3 separate regions of the Homo sapiens genome follow, and regions 1 and 3 are each linked to region 2. The links come from fine-mapping of genetic effects on gene expression. A gene starts in region 2. Each other region holds a variant in brackets. All regions are shown on one strand. Distances are from middle to middle. Region 1 overlaps LINC03075 (long intergenic non-protein coding RNA 3075). Region 2 holds the start of ZNF727 (zinc finger protein 727). Region 3 has its middle 23 kb from the start of LINC02848.

Region 1 (8,187 bases), 680 kb after region 2:
AAATCTTGTGTTATAAATTTTGGGAAACCCTATAAACCTGTTTGGAAATGTGTTTTTGTAATCAACACAACCTAGAAGATACCAGCGAAATATACAATTCTTATGTGAAAATGCTTATGTGGTGTTTTAGTATCAGATATCTGTGCATCACAGTAATGAGAAGATCATAGTCATACCAATTGCATTCAACTGGAGAATTTGGAGGAAAATGGAGGGCATGCCTTGTGTACCTGAGGTCTCCGGTTCAGGAGCAGTCAAGGTCCTCCTCTTCTCAGACATTCTCTCCACTATGCATGGAAGACAGGGGCTTTCAACACAAATTATTTTAAGACAAATTCATTCATATTCAGAAATATAGCAATTGTCCACTGAGTATGTTCCTTAATATTTTGATGCCCACATGGACCACAAATTTATTTTATCATCATTTGTTCCTTTCTGTGTTTTACTTATCCTGATTTCATCCTCTCTGTTTTCTACTTTAAAGAAACACACATGCTTGATGACGATATGCCTGCTGAATACAGACAATGATTATTTGTGTTTTTAAAAACCAAATTTACTTGTCACATTTTGGACTGTGTTTTATTGAACACATTGCAGTTGGTAGTCTTCAGAGGTATAAGCAGAAATACTAAACCAAGAGGATGTTTTATAATAAGAAAATACCATTGTTTTAATACCATTGTTCTCATCATGAAATAACCTCACCCAAACTAATACACAGAGTATTTTAAAGTTTTGGTTTACTTAGAAACAATACCATACTAAAACAATTTACTTTAGGAAAAGATTTCAAAGCACACTGAGTATCACCTCCTCCCCATTTATACAAGGTAGTAGTTAGCTCAACAGAAATTTATATAAACAGCAGAACATTATATTTTCAGATAGTTTTAATATCACAAGAAAAAAATCTCTATTGGCAATTACTATAATGAAATGAAACAAAAGAATCTGGGTATCTGCTAAAATCTTATTACTGTAAAATGTTAGACATATCTTGTGTTTTTAACATCCTAATTTGAAACAGTTCTAAAATATCAGAATTATATAAAGCAATCTTCAAAGTTTAAAGAAGCAAGAAGTATGACTAAATAATTTTATTAGTTCAGATTTCTGTGTTTACAAATTAAAACTTCACATAAATGCAGAAAGTTGTAGTTCAGCTAATTATATTGAGAGTTCAGCTATTATATTGAGAAAAGTCAAATGTATACAAATTCAAGTAGAACATCTCCAAAAATCTAAATGTTTTTCTACAAATCTATAAATTTGTTACTTCATAAGATTAATTATTTTGTATCTGGAAACACCTTCTTATGATAGTTAGAATTCAATGAACCACAGACTGAAATTATTAGGAGCTAATTCTAACAACTAGCTAATAAAATTCTATCTCGATTCACCACTCACCTAGACTTGTGAGCACCCACTGTTAATGAAGCTGAGAAGCAGACACCCAGGTCAGTCTTTGGAGTGAGTCTGTGTATGTGAGATCAGATCCAACAAGTGGTTATAGGGAAGGGATGTTGTCAACTCATCTCCCTCCAGGCCTACAATTGTCATGTCGCCTGTAGAAAAAGGATAAGAGCAGATGTTGAGATTGGTGGAAAAAGGAGCCACCAAAGGGAAAAGTGAACTTACCTATCTGAGGAGGAGCAGCTGGGTTCCACACTTTTCATATCTGAAGATCACTTACACAAGTCAACTTTGCCTGGTGAGTTGGATGATCTCAGTATTTGTCAACAAAACAGGATTCTCCCAATAACACTCCTGTCTAAGTAATGAGAATGTCATGTCAGTCTTCCCAGTGTGACTCTGGTGACTTAAGAATGTTTTCATAGTAAATACTGAAGTTTCTTATAGCAGTAGGAAGCCTTGCACCTGATAATTTTCTTTTTTTAATTGGCAAAGGTAATTGTGTATATTTATGTGGTACAATGTAATATTTTGATTTATAGGAAGATCCAGTCAAGCTAATTAATATATCGCCTAACCAAATTGCTAACAATCTATTCTTTTAGCAATTCTGAAATATACAATTTATTATTAAGAACTCTGGTCATCATTCAGTACAATAGATCACTAAAACTTCTTTCCCCAGCCTAACTGAAACCTGTACCCTTTGATCAACATCTTTGCTATACCCATTCCACCCCGACCATAGCCTCTGGTGATCACCTTTCTTCTCTGTTTCTATGAGATCAACATTTTAGCTTTCATATATGTGAGATCATACATTATTTGCCTTTCTGTGCCTGGTTTATTTTCACTGAGCATAATGTCCTCCTGTGTCACCCATAGCCATTCAAATAAAACAATTATTGTAATCCAATGACCTTAGGGTCCCAGCTGGACTATAACTACCTTTTTGAGAAAGAAAAAAAAGTCTCCTCTGACTGACATTCCCAGAAATAATGCTCTGTTCTCCAGGTGACACAGCCTTGCTCCAGGGTACCTGGCATTGGAATTCGAATGCAGGCTGCATTTTAACACTTATTTCCCCCACCTATTTCATCAATTTTCTTTACGGAGGGCAGAAGGGTTCCATCTATTTAAGCAACACCGAGGGTTAGGATCGGCACTGTTCTTTGCAATATAGCTTATTTAGACATGGAGTTCTAAATGGCCATGCCTCCCATGGTGATGTGTTCTGTCAACCCCAACCTTCAGTCTCCTCGGTTCCTTCTACTCAAGAGACACTGGATCTCACATATCCAGCAGGAGAACATCCACATTTTAAACACTATTCAGTTTTGATTTTGTGACAACAACTAGCCACATCTTTGTGTAATTAGCTCTAACTTTAACCTTAATTGTTATGACTATCATATTTGTGGCCCACTTTCTTAACCAAACACTATCTTGTGTTAAAGTGAAGATTTCTTTTAACAAACCAATACATTTTTTACCTGGGTACTAGATCAAACTGTTTAGCTTCATTTTGAAGTATCTCTCTCACATTTCATCTCTAATGCTCAAGCAAACAGTTCCCACACTCAACACCTGCCCTGCAGACTTCAAATGTTTGCAATTATATGTCTTCCTGCTTTCTCCAACCCGGTACACTCTATAATCAGCTACTATCACTATGTTATCATTGACAAATCCAGCTAACTTATTAGATCTTATTTGTTTGCCCCCTCCTCTCAAACTTCTGTCATTTCAAATGAAATAAATGGTTTCTAGTGCACTTCCCCAACACTTCTGTGTCTTTATTTGTGCCTGACTTTTCTTTCCTTCTTCCAAACTGGCTGGACAGTACGTATGTCTGAATAAAGCACTGGGCTGTGGCTTATTTGGAAAGAACCTGGAACTGTGCAATAAATAGATGCTTCTAGTAAAAAAAGAAATCTGAAGCAGATTCTGATGAGTTAAAATGTATGTATTAAATCCTAGTCTGAACAGTAATTAAATAACTCAAAGAAAAAAGCCATATAGATATTAAAATGTAAGATAAAATGTATTTACTTAATGCAAAAGAAAGCAGTTAAGGAAAGAAAAAAATGAGACATGTAGAAAACAAAATTTAGAAACATTAAATATAAAAGTATTCAACAATCAACATGCAGAGTTTGCCAACTGGGATGTTAAAATCAAGAACCAACTCTGGCTGGCATGGTGCCTCTTGCCTGTAATCCCAGCACTTGGGGAGGCCGAGGCAGGAGGACCACCTGAGGTCAGGAATTTGAGACCAGCCTACCTAACATGGTGAAAACCCATCTCTACTAAAAATACAAAAGTTAGCCAGGCATGGTGGCACATGGTGGCGATTCTCCTGTCTCAGCCTCCCAAGTAGCTGGGATTACAGGTGTACACCACCACGCTCAGCTGATTTTTGTACTTTTAGTAGAGACAGGGTTTCACCATGTTAGCCAGGCTAGTCCCAAACTCCTGACCTCAGGTGATCCACCCACCTCGCCCTCCCAAAGTGCTGGGATTACAGGTGTGAGCCACCATGCCCAGCCAGAGCATGCTTTTTATCTATCATGCAAGAACTCAGAGGGAAGGTGGCTATCTTCAAGCAAGGAAGAGATAGTTCGCTGAGGAATTGAATCAGCTGGCACCTTGATCTTGGACTTTTCAGTCTCCAGAGCTACAAGAAAGAAATACCTATTGTTTAAGCTACTAAGTCTATGGTATTCTACTATAGCATCTAAAGGATGCTAATACAGATTTTGATATGGAGAAGTGGGGTCCTGATATAATAAACACCTAAATGTGTAAGCAGCTTTGGAACTGAATGATGTATAAAGGCATCAAAGAGTTTGGAAGTGCATATTAAAAATATGTAATCAAGCTGAATTCTGATGAGGGCTCAGGAAGAAAATACAACTGCAGAGGAAGTTTTCATCTTCTTAGAAAATATGTAAATAATTTTGAAGACAATGTTGGTAAAAATATGGACATTAAAGGCCAATCTAATGAGGTATGAGACAGAAATGAGTAACATTAGAAACTGAAGAAAAAATAGCCACAAATAAAATGAAATACCTAGCAATGTACTTAATCAAAGAAGTAAAATATCTGTATAATGAAAACTATAAAACACTGATTTTTAAAAAATTGAAGAGGACACAAAATTTTTTTTTAATTTGCTTTTTATAGATTAGAAGAATCAATATTGTTAAAATGTCTATACTAGCCAAAGCAATCTCAGTTTCAATGCAATTCCTATCAAAATACCAATGACATTCTTCACAGAAATAAGAAAAAAATTCTAAAATTCATATGAAACCTTAAAAGACCTAGAAAAAAACTAAATAAAACAAAAAGAATAAAACTAAGGGAATCACATTACCTGACTTCAAATTATACTACAGAGTTATAG[T/A]AACCAAAACAACATGTAATGTATATATTATTTACTGTACAAAATAACACAGAAGGTAGATTGTTAAGAATTCATATGAGATAAGGTTAATGATGAATAATGAAGATTGTCAAGAATTCATATGAGATAAGCTTAATGATGAATAAATGAGCAAAATAAAAATAATGATGATTGGGATAATGTCACTTTAGAATGAACATTGATGATGTGAGGTATATTGTTTCTTCCAGACATACAAAAATGTTTCTTCTATGTCATTAAGATGAAAACAATTTTTACTTATGTTATCATTAACAAGTGCCTTTATTTTTCGAGTTGGCATTGGATTATTCATCAATACCATTTTTTTTTTCTTTCAAATCTTTACATTTCTTCTGGATCCCAGGCCAAAGTTCCATGACTTGATCATCTGCCACTTGGTCCTCAGTCATATTCTAATGCTCCTTACTGCAGTGGATTTTTTTCCTCAAGTTGTGTTTGAATCACTGAATTTGGGAATGGCTTTAAATGTAAGCTATTATTTTACACAAAAAGGGTGATAAGAGGCATCTCCCTCTGTCCCCCCTGGCTCTTGAGTGTGCTCCAGGCCATCACCGTCAGTCCCAGAAACTCATGGTTGGCAAGGTTTAAACATAAATTTACAAATTACATTACCAATGTTTTTCTTCTTTTTTGGTTCTTCAATTTGTCTTTTAGTAGCAGCCTAATCTTCTTCACTGTGTATTTTTCAAATGTGACTCAGACTGATCTATTGAATGTCAGTAAACACTGCTCACTTTTCCCCATGAACCTCATCATCAGGGAGTGAAATTATCCAGGGATGCCTTCCTTGTCAGAGTTATGCTGCTCTCAAGTGCATTCATGTGGATCCTCTTTTTCAGAAATCAGAAGCAATCCCAGCTCCACAGCACCAGCATCTCTCCAAGAATCTCCTCAGAGAAAAGGGCCACCCAGACCATCCTGCTGTTATGAGTTGCTTTGTGGTCATGTATCCTATGAACCTTCTTATTTCAACATCCTCAATCCTGTTATGGGTGTATGACCCAGTTGTCCTGAATTTCCGGAGGCTTGTGCTCAATGCATATGCCACTGTTATTCCACTGGGACAAATTAGTTCTGATTAAAAAAAAAAGTATTCTGCAGAATTGTAATTGATGTGCCACCAATTTTAACAAGCTATTGATGAAAAACGTTTTCTGAAAAATAGTCATCTGCTATTATTTAAACTGCTCAAGTAGCTCATTTTTTATCTGATTTAACCAATGTGTATAAGATCACCTTTTAAAATTATATATGAATACTTTTGAAGCTGATATTACTAAGGACTTTATAGCTTGCTAAGTTCAATATCTACCATAAATTGATATTCTCATATCAAATCTTTTTCTCTTTAATTTTCATTTTAACTTCATATTAGTAAATGTTTCTTTTTTCTTAAAAGGTACTCTTAAGCTCCTGTTGGTAATCAAATCTCTCAAAATTTTAGCTTTTGAAAATATTTTAATTTACCCCTACTTTAATAAGTAGGGATATTATGGTATTATGTAGGGGTATTAGGTATTATGACTATTCAATTATATCTTTAATATCATGCTTCCTCATTAGAATTTTCCTGATTCTGTAAAAATTATGTCAGTTTGGATTTTATATTGAAAATCTAGAATTTATTTAAATGGGTCTAAATAAAATTTGCATGTGGCTAGACATTAGTTTGGTTACACTTAATTTTTCCATTTTAATTGGGATATGATTGACAAATAAAAATTGTATAAGTTGTATCACCTTACATATATGTTCTAATAAAGTTATATATTGTGAAATTATTAATATAATCAAGCGAATTAACATGTCCCTCACACCTCACCTAGTTGCCTTTTCCTAGTGTGGTGAGACTATTTGAGTTTTATTTTCTTATCAAAGTTCAAGTGTACAATACATTATTAATAACTATAGTTATGGAACAAAAGGCAGCAGAAACCTCTGCAGACTTAAATGTCCCTGTCTGACAGCTTTGAAGAGAGTGCTGGTTCCCCCAGCACAGAGTTTGAGATCTGAGAACGGACAGACTGCCTCCTCAAGAACGGACAGGGTGCCTCCCGAGTAGCCTAACTGGGAGGCACCCCCCAGTAGGGGCAGACTGAAACCTCACATGGCCGGGTACCCCTCTGAGATGAAGCTTCCAGAGGAACAATCAGGCAGCAACATTTGCTGTTCAGCAATATTCGCTGTTCTGAAGCCTCTGCTGCTGATACCCAGGCAAACAGGGTCTGGAGTGGACCTCCAGCAAACTTCAACAGACCTGCAGCTGAGGGTCCTGATTGTTAGAAGGAAAACTAACAAACAGAAAGGACATCCACACCAAAATCCCATCTGTACATTACCATCATCAAAGACCAAAGGTAGATAAAACCACAAAGATGGGGAAAAAACAGAGCAGAAAAGCTGAAAATTCTAAAAATCAGAGTGCCTCTCCCCCTCCAAAGGAACACAGCTCCTTGCCAGCAACAGAACAAAGCTGGAAGGAGAATGACTTTGACAAGTTGAGAGAAGAAGTTTTCAGACCATCAAACTTCTCTGAGCTAAAGAAGGAAGTTCGAACCCATTGCAAAGAAGCTGAAAACCTTGAAAAAAGATTAGACGAATGGCTAACTAGAATAACCGGTTAACAGAAGTCCTTAAATAACCTGATGGAGCTGAAACCCATGGCACGAGAACTATGTGACGAATGCACAAGCTTCAGTAGCCAATTCGATCAACTGGAAGAAAGGGTATCAGTGATTGAAGATAAAATGAATGAAATGAAGCAAGAAGAGAAGTTTAGAGAAAAAAACAGTAAAAAGAAATCAACAAAGCCTCCAAGAAATATGTATTTGTTTTTCTTGAAATTTATATTCCTGTCCCGTCTAAATATTGATTAAAAGAGAGGTAGGCACAAACTTTTATTTTGGTTACATTTTGCAAAGTTCTCTAATTTACTTTAGATGATGGGTCCCATCTACTTCATGAACATATGTGAGTATTAAGTACAACAAGTACAATAATCTCCTCCCTACAACAGAGGACCCTGAGACACTAGGGAAACATGGATTGCCAAAATCTTTGTCTTTCCACATTATTCTTCCCTTTACTTTTTATTGCAATGAAAATATAAAAAGATAGTATGCTACAAATTAGAAATTGATTAGTGGATAATATGCATACGTTATTACAGTAAGTTCAAGAATAAGTAGAATATATGAATAGAACCAAAACAATTAGAGATTAAACTTTTTCTATGAAGAAAAGCTCAGTAGATAGTTTCACTTGTAAATTTGACCAAATATTTAATAATGAGTTAAAACCAGGTCTTTTAG
Region 2 (8,187 bases):
TTTGTTGATTTAATAAAAAACAGTGTCTTCTGACTTCTCAGCGAAATATATATATATAGAAAAATATATATATGTAGAAAGTTTATTGCTTTTATAACTTGTCCAATACAGTAATACAAAAATGGATAATAGAAAGTTTAACTTCAGATGAGTGTATTAGTCTAATGTTTCATGAGATTTTACAAAAATAATTAAGAATAAATAAATAAAACAGATGTAAATGGGACAAAAGCTTAAAACTTACAATACTAATTGTTTTGTAATGTGTTTAAATAGTTTCTCAAATCTTTATGGAAACTATAATCTTAGATTGTTGCTAACCTACATTAAATAATGGCTATTCATTAAACATCTAGATTATCTCTAAATAAGATAAAATGCTAAGATATTAATTTTTAAATATAAGTTTAAGCTAAATATTTTTGGTTTCTTCACAGAAACAAAAGATATTTAGATCTGTTAGTATGTCCTATTCCACATTAAAAATGTTTCCATTTAAAATCCTATGTTTCTAAAAATTATAAAATATATATTTCTAAATGTTTACTACATGACTAATAGTTAAAATTGCTTACTTCTCAGGCTTTCACTATATATTCAGATTACTAAAAATTAAAATTCTGGCTAAGATATAATAACTAAAACTATTGTTAAGGAGAGAAACAATTTTACATACAGAGTGTACAAGGAAAATAAGATGTGTTTCTTGGTGAAAAAAATTATTTTAGAAAGAGACAAGAGGATGTGGTTTTTCTTAAAGAGAAGGCAATCTTGCTGGGTTTAGAGGTTAAAGAATACATAAAATTGAAAGAATAAAAGATAAAGAAAATGAGGTAAATTCAATGGATATATAAAGTTGGAGAAAGAGAATAAAGAAAATTTTAAGGGGTTATAAAATGTTTCTAGAAATCTTATCTTGTATGGTCAGCTGACTGAGACTGAATACATCTGTTTATAAGGTTTTCTTAAAATTAGCTTTAATAATAATATAATAATACAAGAATAAAATTTGATTTTCTTTTTTAAACAAGATTTTTATGAAGAAAAAGATTTACTTCAAATTTGTTGGAAGGAACCATATTAGATTTTCTTGGCCAATACCTGTGCCACTAAATTGAAGACCAATATCTTTTAGAATATTTGGTCACCGCCCTCTCCATACATAGCTCTGCAAAAACCCAGCACTGGACAAATTCTCTCTAACTTTCTGCAGGCTTGGCCACCAATCTGTTTTAGATGAAGATTCTGTTTGAAAAAAATCTGCTAATTATCTGCCTGGCTTTCAAAGAACACCTTCATGCATTTTATTGGAAAAAATGCTTTTGCCTTGGTGAGGTGTCACTTCCCATGAACATATGATTTAAAATATTTTTATAAGCTTAGAAAGAATTACTGATAAAATTGTTGCATCCATTGCAGCTTAAAAACAAAAAAAGCTACTGATTTACTGGCTACAATTATACTAGACAATCATATTGCTTTAGGTTACGTATTACCTGAGCAAAGATATGTATGTATAGTGGCAAATACTTTTTTATTGTGTACACATAAATATTTCCTATGAAGTAGAAATTTTTCTAAAAAATAATGAGTTGCCCACTACCACAAATTCTCCACTCTGCACGAGACAGAAACTGATGTTTTCATGAATGTTTGTAATTTACGTGTTAATCTACCACACTTTCTTGTAAAAATGTATTTATTTTTCTGCAACCATCATGAGACAGACATTTCCTCTGTCTTTTCCCAGGTAGCATTCCCAAAGCTAAGCCCTGGGATTCTGTTTGAAATCATGCTAAAACAGAACAGACCTCAGAATCTTACTACATTCACTGTGCAATACATAAAAGGTAAATGAGAATTTTTAACCAATGGAATATAAACTATTTTTTTTCTGAAATCTACCTCTTTTCTCTTAGAAAACATTTGTGGTTTTTTTTAATCTTTCAAGCTCTAATGATAAAATCCATTTTACAATTAATGAAAAACTGAAGTTGAAATAACTGAACATATATATTCAAGGCAACAAACACGGGGTGAAGTAGTGCTGACTGGAACACAGATGTTTTAGACTCATGTGTCAATCACTTGAGAGATTCTCCCACCCCCATTCTGCTCACTAAAGTACTTGATCATCACTCTCCCAAAAGACACTGCACTTGCCCCCTGTGTGGCAGATGTGTATTTTGCTTTGCAAATTTATACACGCCCTCACTAGGGTGGGTCTTTCCTATACTTTGGGACAGTTATTCTCCTTCACAAGCCTGAGAGAAACCAGAGGGCAAGATGCATTTGTGCCTTTTTCCCTCAATACCAGCACCTGATTGGTTGAGCACCAATGTGTCTGCAGAAAGGAAAGCTAGGGTTGAGAGGGAAAAAAATCTTAATGTTAAAGCAGTTAGCTTTTTAGAGGAAGGGTGTATCAGGAAACTGCTCTCAGCACGAGGGCATCCAGCTGCTCCCCTGAGAGGCTCCACCCAATACCTCAGGCTCTTCTCTGAAAGGAGATGACCCAGGGGCTAATGTTTGCTAGACACTCCAAGAGACATGGTCCTTGTGGGTATCTTGGATCATCCCCAGAAAGCTGTAATACTTGGAACCAGGAAAATACAGGAGAGTGACTGAGGACACATCACCCTGCAAAGGATCCAAAGACATGCTGGGAAGGCGCGCGTGCCTAGAGAAGATGAGAGGAGATGCGCAGAGCGTCAGGTGATTACTCTCTGCTTTCCTGTTATGTGAAATGTTCACGAACAGACGAAATTAAAAAGAGCCACCTACTGCTCTCTTAAACAAAAATAAACAATTAAAATGCCACGTCCGTTTTGAAATTAAATAAAGGACTAATAGTTGATAATGTGATCTGGACAGGGATAGTCGGCATTGGGGAATGTGGGAAAGAAATTGGAAATGTAGAATTTTCTACAGTCCCTATAACAGTTAGGCTGGGAGAAGTTTTGGATTTGAGACCCTGCTTGCCAAACATTTGAAAATTGCAGACAAAACCAAGGACCCTGTAGAGCATTAAAATAACTAAATAGCTGGCAATTAGGCTGAAATGGCCATGATGCTCTGGGATTCTGCCTAAGGAAACCTAACTACGTCGAAAGAATTTCTTACAAATTACTAACTTTGAGAAAAAAAAAAAAAACACAAAACTTAGGCTTAACCAACCACAAGCTGCCAATAAAGCTCTAAGTACATAACCAGGACATTTCCACCGGATGGGTGCAAATGCAATACATAACTGTAACCAATCAAATACTGAATCTGGTTTGCTTCCTCATACCTCTTACAAAAGCCTTTTGTTCCAAGTCTCTCCTTTGAGCCCCCAAACCATAGTTGGATATTCTCTGATTCATAAATTGCTGTTTGTGCAAATAAACTGTTTGTATTAATCGGTTCTGGCATTACTATAAATGCCTCAGACTGGGTAATTTATAAGAAAGAGGATTAACTGGCTCATGGTTCCACAGGCTGTACAGAAAGCATAACACCAGCATCTGCTTCTGGGGGGGCCCCACCCAGGAAGCTTAAAATCCTGGTGCAAGGTGAAGCAGGAGCTTGAAAAGAAGGCAAGGGGGTTGCTATACACTTTTAAATAAGAACTTCAGGGAACTCAGTCACTATCGAGAGGTCAATACCAAGAGGAATGGTGCTAAACTATTCATGAGAAATTCACGCCCATAATCCAAACACTTTCCACCAGGCCCCACCTCCAACATGGGGTATTACATTTAAATAGGAGAGTTGGGCTGGAAAACACTTCGAAACTATATCCTAAAGATGCCTCAATTTAGGCTACGACAGTGGCTCATGCATGTAATCCCGGCACTTTAGGAGGCCCGAGGGGGGCGGATCACCTGAGCTCCGGAGTTCGAGACCAGGCTGAGCAACATTGCAAAAACCCGTCTCTACCAAACAAACAAAAAACAAAACCACAAAACCAGGCGAGGTGGCGGCGCATGTCTCCCTAGTCCTAGCTACTTGGGGAGCTGGGGTGGGAGGATCATCTGAGCCCAGGAGGTGGAGGCTGCAGTGAGCCGAAATCTTGCCACTGCACTTTAGCCTGGGCACAGAGTGAGACACTGTCTCCAAAATAAATAAATAAAATAAGCCACAATTTTTAAAAGGAGAAAGGAGGGACTGGGGACCCCAAGGCCCACTGCTTCTTCCACGGAGGAACTCCAGACCCTGAATGAGGATTCTCGTCTTATGACGTCCCCGCACAATCTGGAGGAGACTCGGGATTGCGACACAGAGCTGCCCAAAAAGTCTCTGGGCTGGAAAGAAATTCGCGTTTATGGACAAAACAAGACGCTCGGGTTTTGGCTGCAGGCTCAGCTCCTAATCTGCGACGGAGGGAAGTGAGGACTGAACTGTGCCCACGGGGACTCGGAGCTGCTGCAGAGCTGACCGCGAGGCCAAGATCCCACCGCAGCCAGTTCCGACCGGATTCAAACAGCCTCTTCCCCCTTCTCGGGACACCCACTCCGCGCACTCACCATTTCCCAGCCTCCGGATGTTCCGCCTTCTTCCCTATGGATCTCCCAGTACCTGCAGGTCACAGGATAACAGGGGCTATGGTGGAGTCACCGAGGAGCTAATGGAGCGGAAGAGATGGAATAGTACAGACGGGTACTGGACTCAGAGCCTAGAAGCTAGGAGACGAAGGCCTTGCCATATTGAAGAGCCCGCCTCTTCCTCTCTAGCTGCGCACCTGATTGGGCAGTTTTCACGCTAGCACCACTGATTGGCTGGGGTTCTCCGCCCCACACATTTAGACCCTGATCGACAGGAGATGTAATGAGACACTGGGCTGAATGAGGAAAGAGTGACAGGTTTTTGCCTGCAGCATGTTCAGGCAGCGATTTCTCCTTGTGTTGGGGGCCTGGCCCTGCCTGAGGGACATTTGTATTTAACGTTGTATATAAGATTATATCACTTTCTGATTATATTTACGTGTGTGTATATCAATTTCTGAATTATAGTTATGTGTATGCTGCAGGCCCTGTCTCAGCATCCTGTCTTTCCCTTTAGTTGCAGGAGATCAAAGTCCTCCAGGAGATGCAGCTGCACCAGCTGGCTGCAGACAATTATCACCTTCAGTCTGTGAAGCAATTTTGGGTCTGCTTCCAATTAATGGAGTGTCTCAGTGAGACTGAGAGGTGAGGGCCTAGCAGATTGGTTAGTGCCACTCACCCAGACCTCCCAAAACACCCTGTTTCTTTCCCACCAAAGCTGAGCCTGCCTGAGGACCTAAACAAGCATGGAGAACGAAGATGGGACCCTAGTCAGGGATAGTGCTGGGCTGTGGGGTAAAGTCAGCTGGGTCAGTGCCTCCAGGTGTGGGAAGGAGCCGGCCTCTTCTCTAGGGCCCTGGGCAAGTCACTGCCCTCTTTGGGCCTCTGTTTTCTTATCCAAAAAATGTAGGGATGATGAGACTGAGAGGGGCTAATGATGAGCTTCAAAGGAGAAAAGAACTTTGAGAGTGCTTGTGCCTGGCTCTTCCTGAGATGATGAGAACAATGGTGACAGCTACATATAACTGAGTCCTCACAAGGCCCAGTGAGGTAGGTGGTTCCCATCACACTTTCAAGTTGAGAAAACAGTCTCAGGGAGGCCTGGCTGCATGCCCAAGGTTCCACATACAGGGAGTGTTGGAGCAGGGAGTCAATCTAGAATCAGAACTTACTGGAGATGACAGGAGCATTGGACCAGCTTACTCACACCAGTTATCCAGGATACCAGGTCAGTGTAACTGGGCATAACTGGGTGAAGGGAGCATAGTATCACTGACCTTTTCTTTGACTCTGGCAGATGAAGACATCCACGTTGGCCACCCTGGAGACGAAACCACAGAGAGGCCAGATGAGGCTAAAGCAGCAAAAAGGCAGTGTCCCTGTGATGGGGAGGAGCTCCAGGGAGTCAGAGGGAAGAGCTCCTCCCTCACAGCCGGAGGCCTCCACATCAAAAGAGCAAGGGGCCTTTCTCCCGTAGCCCTTCCCTCCTGTGGCAACAGTCCCTGAAATGCCTCTATAAGACAAATCTGAGTAAAAGCCTGGAAGAGCTGGATTTGGGAAATAGTGGGGGCAGGGACCACATAACATTGTGACTTGTAAAAATCTCACCACAGAGTTAACATGGGAACATGGGGGTTCATGTTTTTGGAGGCCAGCTAGGAGGAGGGGAGAGAGTTGGGGAGAGGCAGCTGAGTGTCTTTGGCTTTTTCAAGTGGAAGATGTAGATAGGAGGGTCCAGGAGACAGGGGATTATGAGACTTCAGGGGACAGGCCTTGAATGGACACCCAAAATTGGATACTCATCCCCATCACCACCCGATGGCACAGGGTGTTGCCTCCATCCTGGGCACATTTTCCAGTTATCTGGTGATGGGAGACCCTGCCAGAAAGGATTATATGGATGGGAGTGAGCCTGGGATGGGCAGGGCTGGAACCAGGATCCTGAGGCTTGGGAAAAGAGAATCCAGGACTACACCCTTAGATCTCAGCACTTGGCAAACCTCCTCTCATGAGAGCCTCACGGCTGCCTCTGTGAGCTGAGGCATCAGGCCCCTCTTCCCTATGAATGTTGAAGATTCCACATCAGCCGTCAGTCCCTGTTCCCAGAGTGGTGAAGCTGCAGAGCTGCCTGCTTGCAAAGCTCAGTGAGGTTTGGCCTGAGCTGGACTCAGACTCTCCCTCAGGTGGTTCCAATGGAAGGAGAGTAAACTTAGACCTCTCTAAGGGCAGGCAGCTCATATAAGCCTGAGCACTTTTTTAATGGGAGCCTCCAGTTTTTCTGTCATCAGAGAGAGTTGGGGCGGGAGGTCCCTGAGCCTCAGCTCCCATTGTTCTGTTCTTTGAACCCCAGAACCTGCTGCAGACCCAACTCCTGCTTTGTGCACATGCCCTGACCCTGGTGGCCCTGGCAGTAATGCAGTATGAAGGGAGTGGGGAGGGGACCTAGTCTAAGGGTCTAAGGGGCCTTTCTAATGAACACTGGCTGTCTGACTTCCAGGGAAATGTGAATAACACCAAAAAAAAAAAAAAAAAAAAAGGAAGGTGAGTAGCTGGGGCAACACTGGGGGAGAGTGGAGAGGTAAAACTCACAGATGCCCCTGGGGAGAATACTCTGTGTATCTAACTTATTTATCTATTTATTTTGATATAGAGTCTTGCTCTGTTGCCCAGACTGGAGTACAGTGGCATGATCTCTGCTCACTGCAACCTTCACCTCACGGGTTCAAGCGATTCTCCTGCCTCAGCCTCATGAGTAGCTGGGATTACAGGTGCATACCACCACATCTGGCTAATTTTTTATATTTTTGGTAGAGATGGGTTTTCACCATGTTAGCCAGGCTGGTCTTGAACTCCTGACCTCAAGTGATCCACCTGCCTTGGCCTCCCAAAGCGCTGGGATTACAGGCATGAGCCACTGCACCCAGCTTAACCTTTTCAGTAAATCTAAGATGCAGAGGATGGAGCCTCTGCAATCTCAGATTTAGATTCCATCCTCTGCATCTTAGATTTATTGAAAAGGTTTGATACACAGATAAAGAGACCCATCACAATGGAGGGTGTGAGTAGGGGACTGAAATCAAAAACCAGTTCCTGGAGGAGGGGCTGTCTGTATCCAACTCTGAAAATAGGTTGGGGCTGCCTGGCATTAGAGAACAGGAAGAGGCCCTTAAGAGAAAAGCCCCAGAAAACAGCCCGTTACCTCTCTTCCCCACAAGTTCCCTTCAACATTTTTCACCCAGGTCCGGTTAGTAGGAAGTTTACTCTCCTTCCATTGGCACCACCTGAGGGAGAGTCTGAGTCCAGCTCAGGCCAAACCTCACTGGGCTTTGCAAGCAGGCAGCTCTGCAGCTTCACCACTTAGAGAACAGGGACTGGCGGCTGATGTGGAGTCTTCAACATTCATAGGGAAGATTCATAGATTCATAGGCCTGAAGCCTCAGTTCACAGAGGCAGCCGTGAGGCTCTCATGAGAGGAGGTTTGCCAAGTGCTGAGATCTAAGGATGTAATCCTGGATTCTCTTCTCCCAAGCCTCAGGATCCTGGTTCCAGCCCTGCCCATCCCAGGCTCACTCCCATCCACAAAATCCTTTCTGGCAGGGTCTCCCATCACCAGATAACTGGAAAATGTGCCCAGGATGGAGGCAACACCCTGTGCCATCGGGTG
Region 3 (8,187 bases), 170 kb after region 2:
CTGACCTCAGGTGACCCACTCACCTTGGCCTCCCAAAGTGCCGGAATTACAGGCATGAGCTACTGCGCCTGGCCCATATAAAACTTTTGAAGCCTAGAACCTTCTTCACCATGGACACTGTACTGTGTCCTCCACATGCACAAGTCTCTGAAAAATAGGAGCTTCCTGGTATAAGCCCCAGCCCCCAATCTGCCAGTGGTGCACAGTGCTGCCATTGACCATATGTCTCTTCTTGTTCCCCTGCATATGAAAATAAGTCTACCCTAAACCTTGAGATGAGAATAATGCCGACACTCCCAGCCAGGTACAAGAGAGAAGCTGAATGAGCTTCTGGTACTAGACTTCCAGGTTGAGCCATCTTCTCCTTTACCACACTCCTAGGCTCCTACCAGGACTTCACCACCAATCCACAGTTCCTGGGTAAGCTATTCAGTAGGTGTCTGTCTCCTCCAAGACACAGTGGTGACTCTGCAAGCTACCAGGTGGGTACTAAGGATATCATTGCAGCTCTCTGTGCCTGTCTATGCCTCTGAAAAGTGAGAAGATGAACCTCATAGAGTTCTTGTAGGGACTAAATGGCATAAGACACAGCAAGCAGATGCTGAGTGCCTGGCTGCTTAGGATGCTCTGGTTGCTTATATATATTGTTTCTGTCTTTTTGCCCAAGAAGTTCTCCTGCCTCATTGGCCTGTGTCCCTCTACATTTGAAACAGCACCTAGAAAGCAAAGCTGTGTTTGCATTGGTAAACCACATTTGAGATTTCTTCTAGCTGGATTTTGTCCTTGACAGAGAATGAATAAACTTCCTAGGATGCTGAAAGAGGAGTCCCTACCCAACTCAGATATCTGAGGAGGTTCTTGTTGAGGTTTGTTTATTCAATACATATATTTTCGGTACAATGTGTACATCAGTTTTCTAGATGCTTGGCATAATTCAGTGAACAAAGATGACAGTGCCTGGGCCTCTGCATTTTTACTGCTAATTATGGAGCTTCTATTACACAGCGAGCACTGCTCTGTGTGTGTTCATTTCTGTGCCAAAACAGCCTCATGATGTATGAAGCCTTCCACTGTTTACATAAACAAATTGGCTCAGTAAACTTGATTATGTCCATTACAAAAAGAACAATCATGAAAGAAAAAGTGGCTTAAATGGAGTTCTCCAATTAAAAGAAAAAGGATGGAATGTAACTTAAAACACTCGCTGTAGAAACACTAACATCTAAAAGTTATTTTCTGAGCATGATTAAATTTCATAAAATTTATATAATCCCAGATTATAATCCAAAAATAAAATTATCCAATAATAAAATTTCATAAAATTCTTATAATCCCAGAGGACATCATATAAAGAATACTTCACGAACCTTGGAATGAAAAAATTATATAGCAGGTCCAGCATAAGAAACAGGCAAGAAAAAAACAGAGGATTTCCATGGAGATTCTGAGCCAACGGGCCATAAGATTTTAGATAAATGAATTCAATACAAAGCAGAGAAAATAGATTTGCTTTCAGAATCTTTGAGGTTTTGATCTGCCTAGTAAATATCATCACTTTTAAAAATTATCTGTATTGATCTAATGTTTGTCTTTTCTTCTCAAAATAGGTACACACTCACACAAACATAGTTAAATTCACCACAAATCTCTTACACCTGAAGTTTATCGATAATGTGATATATTTGTATATGTAAACCCATGTAAATCAAAACTAAAAATCTGTGTTTTGCAGACTAGAGTGGGCACATTCAGATAAATATAGAATAAAATTTTAAAATAGTCATTCAGAATTCAGAAATATGTGAATATATTTTATTATAGTCTTATGTAATCTTTATTATAACCATATGTGAATGTATTTTATTATAGTCTTATGTAATCTTTATTATAACCATAATGATCCTATAGTTACAAAAAGAAGAAAAAATAAATGTATTACCTCTGGTAACAATATTCCACTGGGAAAAGGGATTACAAAAGATGTCATTGTACTACGTTATCCTCTACTATGCTATCCAATAGTATATTGTGACCATCAGTTACCTACAACATGGGGTAAGGTGGGATAGGTTAATGTTGGTGGTAAGATGCATTTCATTCAATGGAAAATAGTCTTAACATACTAAAAACAATTTTATTCCATTAAAATAAATTAAGTTCAAACATTATCTCAAAAAGCATTTTAAACTCCACTGCATTTTATTATTTTAATGTGTAACTGGTAAAACAATTGACTTCTAAGATTCAAAATGCTTCTCTTCTCCTACAATGCTGAATCATGTTACCCTGAACACCTACCTCATGAATCACTTACAACATTGTTATAAGGGGCCTCTCCACTTAGATTTTCTTTATGCATCTTACATTCAAGTGTCCTTAGTGTTCCATGGAAAAGTGTATTAATGGTGCCCACTTAATAGAGAAAGATGTCTCAGAGCTCTGATGCAGAAACCATTAACCACGTGCTTTCACATGAGCACTAGAAATGATGATATAACATCAAGACATTTGTGAGTTTAACTTACATAAATATTTGCTTTTCAAAGTAACTATAATTATTTCAATTCCAAAAAGTATAATTTGAATGTAATTATAACTGTCCAAAAAAGAGAAAATCAATCTCCTTCTCCATTTAAACTTACACACAAGTAAGCAATCTATTTTAAATTATTCTCTATAATCATCACTGATTAGAGTAATGTCTCAAACTGTTACTGCCTTGGTGCTTTCTACTGTCAATCTATGACATTTACTTTGGCTTGATTTCTAATTTACTTTTTCACATTTCCTAAATCTGTATAATAAATTCTAGTAGAAACTCTCCAGTGTTCTCTAAGGTATATGTATGGAACAAAAGTTTTTCCACATAATTACATCCATAGGGTTTCTCCCCAATATAAAGTTTGAGGAATTCCTGGAAAGTTTCCCTTCAGTATAAATTTTTCAGTGTACAATAAAATCTGTGGTATAAGTAAGGTATTCTGCCTTTATATTTGTAATGCTTTTCTTCACTAAAATAATCTTGTGCACGTTAAGGGTTATATTTTGTGAACAATCCTTCAACAGTCATTACATTAATACCACTTTTATTTAGTATGAAATCACTGCTGTAGATTGTGATGTCAGCATTCACTAATGGTTTTGCCACATTTTTCACCTTGGTAGGGTCTCTCTCCAGAATGAATTCACTTACAGTAAAAGTTGAGCACAAATTAAAACCTTTGCTACATTCCCTACAATTGTAGGTGTTCTCGATCACATGAATTATCTTATATTCAGTAAGGATTGAGCATTGATCAAAGACTTACCACATTCTTCACATTTCTTGAGTTTCTTTCCAGTTTGAATTCTCTTATGTTTAGTAAGGTTTGAGAACCAGTTAAAGGCTTTGCCACATTTTCCACATTTGTAGGGTTGCTCTCCAGTATGAATTCTCTTGTGTCCAATAAGGTGTGAGCTCTGATTAAAGGTTTTGTCATATTCTTTACATTTGTAGCATTTCTCTCCAGTATGAATTCTCTTATGTTTAGTAAGGATTGAGCCATGCATAAAAGCTTTTGCACATTCTTCACTATTGTAGGGGTTTCTCTCCAGTATGAATTCTCTTATGTTGAGAAAAGTATGAGAACCAGTTAAAAGTTTTGCCACATTCTTCACATGTGTAGGGTTTCCTTCAGTATGAGTTCTCTTGTGTCCACTGAGATGTGAGCCCTAGTTGAAGGCTTTGCCACATTCTTCACATTTGTAAGGTTTCTCTCCAG[T/C]ATGAATTCTCTTATGTCCAATAAGGTGTGAGCACTGGTTAAAGGCTTTGCCAAATTCTTCACATTTGTAGGGTTTCCCTACAGTACAAATTCTCTTATTTTGAATAAGGTTTGAGAACCAGTTAAAGGCTTTGCCACATTCCTCACATTTGTATGGTTTCTCTCTTGTGTGAATTCTCTTATGTTGAGTAAGGATTGAGCACTGGTTAAAAGCGTTGCCACATTCATCACATTGAAAGATTTTGCTAAGGGTAGTTGATAAACATTGGTTAAGTCCATTATAACTTTTTTTCTGTCCCTTACAGTCACCTACACATTCCCAGTCTTTTCTTAAGTTTAAATTTTGAATGCCATAGCTTTCATATCTTCTCAGTATCACTTTTGGGAATGTTTTATGCTCTGCTCAGGCAAAAGGTCTGGAGTAAAATGAGGCAACACAGCTAAAAGAAATAAAAATACATTATACCACTTATTAGACTCAGGTGAATATACTTTACAAATACAAAATATAAAATTATACCAAGCACAATAAGATGGCACAATACTACAGGCCCAAATTCCTTAATAGACATGCAAACTTAACAAAAATATATTGACCAAAATGCCTTTGTAAGAGCTCTAAAAACCAGTTAAGAGACTGCAGTGCCATAGATGAGAATGATGCCAAGAGCCACAGAGAAGACAAAGGAGCATTTGTTACATTTAACCACCACAGCCATACTTCCTCCTAAACACAAAATAATGCCTTTAAGTATAAACCCTCAATGCCTGGCTTCTCTCTCAACAGTGAAAAAAAAAAATAGTGGCACATGTGTCCATACTTCTGGCTTTGAGGGATCTTTCCAAAGACTGGTTTCTGTCTACTGTGACACAGAGTGCCGAAAGAAATTGTGCTGTACTTTGAATGACAGGTTACTGTCTGTGAGACAAAAGGTAAATGATTTTTAGGCCAGCAGAGAGACTATAGGACCACAGAGAAACAGCAGGTGTACCAACTAATTACAGGCTCTTAAGCAGAAACATGGGCAAACCCGCATAACTCAATAAGGGGAACACAAATCTAGGGAAGAGACATCTTAAGAATGGTTTGAGAAATTCTCAATATCCATCCTGGTAAATTGCAGGGAAGAAATCCACTTTATACAGACTGTGATGGGTGGCTTTATTTTTAATGCACATATCTCAACCAAACACTACAATATATACAAAATATCAGACTAACACAGCCTAATCAAAGAAACAAGTATGCTGAAATCAACCCTAAAGAAATGAAGATGAATAAATTATCTGAAAAAAATCAAAATAAACATCTCAGTTATGCTCAATGTGTAACATGGGAACACAGACAACTAAGTGTAATCAGAAAAATAAGAATATCAACAAAATGACAAAAAGAAACAAGTTTTGGAGAAGAATACAAAAATGACTGAGAAATTATCCAATGTAAGAAAAAAATACTAAAAACTGAAGCTCAACAAACTCCATCTTGGATAAAAAGACCCATAACAAGACACAATCTAAGCAAAGTTTTGAAAGTCACAGAAAAGAAGAGAATCTTCTTTTTCTTTCTTTCTTTTTTTTATTTATTGATATTCTTGGGTGTTTCTCGCAGAGGGGGATTTGGCAGGGTCATAGGTCAATAGTGGAGGGAAGGTCAGCAGATAAACAAGTGAACAAAGGTCTCTGGTTTTCCTAGGCAGAGGACCCTGCGGCCTTCCGCAGTGTTTGTGCCCCTGGGTACTTGAGATTAGGGAGTGGTGATGACTCTTAACGAGCATGCTGCCTTTCAAGCATCTGTTTAACAAAGCACATCTTGCACCGCCCTTAATCCATTTAACCCTGAGTGGACACAGCACATGTTTCAGAGAGCACAGGGTTGGGGGTAAGGTCACAGATCAACAGGATCCCAAGGCAGAAGCACTTTTCTTAGTACAGAACAAAATGAAAAGTCTCCCATGTCTACTTCTTTCCACACAGACACGGCAACCATCCGATTTCTCAACCCCTTTCTACTCCACAAAACCGCCACCGTCATCATAGCCCGTTCTTCATGAGCTGCTGGGCACACCTCCCAGACGGGGTGGTGGCCGGGCAGAGGGGGTCCTCACTTCCCAGTAGGGGCGGCCGGGCAGAGGCGCCCCTCATCTCCTGGACGGGGCGGCTGGCCGGGCGGGGGGCTGACAGCCCCACCTCCCTCCCGGACGGGGCGGCTGGCCGGGTTGGGGGCTGACCCCCCCACCTCCCTCCCAGACGGGTCGGCTGGCTGGGCGGGGGCTGACCCCCACCTCCCTCCCGGACGGGGTGGCTGCCGGGCGGAGACGCTGCTCACTTCCCAGACGGGGTGGCTGCCCGGTGGAGGGGCTCCTCACTTCTCAGACCGGGTGGCTGCCGGGCGGAGGGGCTCCTCACTTCTCAGACGCGGCGGTTGCCAGGCAGAGGGTCTCCTCACTTCTCAGACGGGGCGGCCAGGCAGAGACGCTCCTCACCTCCCAGATGGGGTCGCGGCCGGGCAGAGGCGCTCCTCACATCCCAGACGGGGCGGCGGGGCAGAGGCGCTCCCCACATCTCAGACGATGGGCGGCCAGGCAGAGACGCTCCTCACTTCCTAGATGGGATGGCAGCCGGGAAGAGGCGCTCCTCACTTCCCAGACTGGGCAGCCAGGCAGAGGGGCTCCTCACATCCCAGACGATGGGCGGCCAGGCAGAGACGCTCCTCACTTCCCAGACAGGGTGGCGGCCGGGCAGATGCTGCAATCTCGGCACTTGAATGCAGAAAGACAAGAGGGATGTATCACCTATATGCATACTCCTGCAAGATTAACAAAAACCCAAGAGGAGAGTTGGGTTATATAGTCCAAGTGCTGAAGGAAAAAAACTTTTAGCAAAACTGTCCTAGAAAATTTTAAAAAATAAAGATTTTCCAAGATAACTAAATGCTGAGAAAGTACATCACCAGAATAACTGTCCTACAAAAATGCAAAAGGAAGTCTTTCCCATTAAAAATTTAAAATGCTAGAAAACAAACCAACTCATATAAAAATACGCAACTCTCTGAGAAAGATATGCACGTACACAAAAATAATACTTTATAGTATTATAATAAATAGGCAGAAAACAATTGTGCTTTAAAATTTGAAAGACATCATGAAAATTAAAGCACCCATTAATATATGATATACTTAGTGACATTGTTAAGTTGAGGGCAGATGTAATGAGCAAGAATTTTTGTATGCAACTGAGTGCAAGTTGTTACTAGTTTAAAATACACAGTTGTAACTTTAAGGTATTTTATGTAATTTAAATGGGAACCATAAAGAAAATGCAGATACACAATAGAAAATAAAAAAGCAAAGCATGTCACTGCAAATATCAACAAGACACAAATAAATACAAAGTAAATAGGGACAAAATAGCTACAAGAGTCAAATAAAACAATAAAATGGCAATTGCAAGTCATTTCCTTTCAGAAAAGTATTAAAATATTCATGGACTAAACTTTCCAAATCAAAAGGCAAATATTAAATAAAGGGATTTCTTTTTTGAATTTAGAAAACAGAATCCACCTATGTCATGTTTCCAAGAGACTCACCTCAGAAAATAGACTGAAAGTGGCAGGATGAGAAAAGCTATTCCATGCAAATGTTAACCAAATGAGAGCTGGAGAACTAATGATATTAAGTCAAAAGCTGACATATTTTATAAAATATAGTTTAAGTCAAAACTCACAATAGACACACAAGGACATTAAATTATAATAAAATGTTTCATTCACTGGGAACCTACTTATATCTCTTATCAGGGTTCCCAAATATATAAAGCAAGCATTGACAGAAATGAAGTAATGTAATACTGGGAGAATACTTTAATATTTTCAGTAATAAATAATAAAGCATGACAGAACATTAATAAGGGAACAAAGGACTTGAAAGCAATGTAAAACAATTACACCTAAAAGACATATACAGAATATGCCACACAACAGCAGAATACACAATCTTTTCAATAGCTCATAAGAAAATTCTCCTGGATACAACACCTGCTATCTCATAAAACAAGTCTTAATCCATTTTTGAACCTTGAATCTTACACACTGTTATTTTTGGCCAAAATTGAATGAAACTAAAAATCACTAAAAGAAGGAAAACCAAAAAAATTCACAAAATATGAAAATTAAACAATACGCTCTTAAGCATGCTCCTGTCCAAATGTTGGAAGACTTAATACTGTGAAGATGGCCATACTGACCAAAGTGATCTATCTACACATTCAATACAATCCCTTTCAAATTCCAAATTTTAGTTCTCCAAAAATAGGAAAACAACCTCCATATTATATGGAATATTAAGAAACCACAAAGAGCCTGACTATTTAAAAAAGAAAAACAATATTGGACACATCATGCTTAATGATTTCAAAATACAAAATG

The links. PIP is the estimated chance that this variant, and not a neighbour inherited with it, causes the effect.
Region 1: its variant is the best candidate, but not a certain one, in a credible set for the expression of ZNF727 in whole blood (INTERVAL, PIP 0.62).
Region 3: its variant is the best candidate, but not a certain one, in a credible set for the expression of ZNF727 in whole blood (TOPMed, PIP 0.68).

The regions. Positions count from the first base shown.
Region 1 is chr7:63,365,096-63,373,282 of GRCh38, reverse strand. It overlaps LINC03075 (long intergenic non-protein coding RNA 3075), which reads right to left. Exons shown (of 10, transcript XR_002956557.2): 4 at 1,648-1,780; 5 at 1,417-1,574; 6 at 231-287. It also overlaps the pseudogene VN1R31P. Among named protein-coding and RNA genes, the nearest start is that of LINC03075, 15 kb to the right of the region's middle. The variant T/A (reference allele first, on the strand shown) is at 4,835.
Region 2 is chr7:64,041,943-64,050,129 of GRCh38, reverse strand. ZNF727 (zinc finger protein 727) reads right to left here and starts at 4,696. Exons shown (of 4, transcript NM_001159522.3): 1 at 4,506-4,696. The coding sequence starts at 4,508.
Region 3 is chr7:63,872,306-63,880,492 of GRCh38, reverse strand. No RefSeq gene overlaps it. Among named protein-coding and RNA genes, the nearest start is that of LINC02848, 23 kb to the left of the region's middle. The variant T/C (reference allele first, on the strand shown) is at 3,762.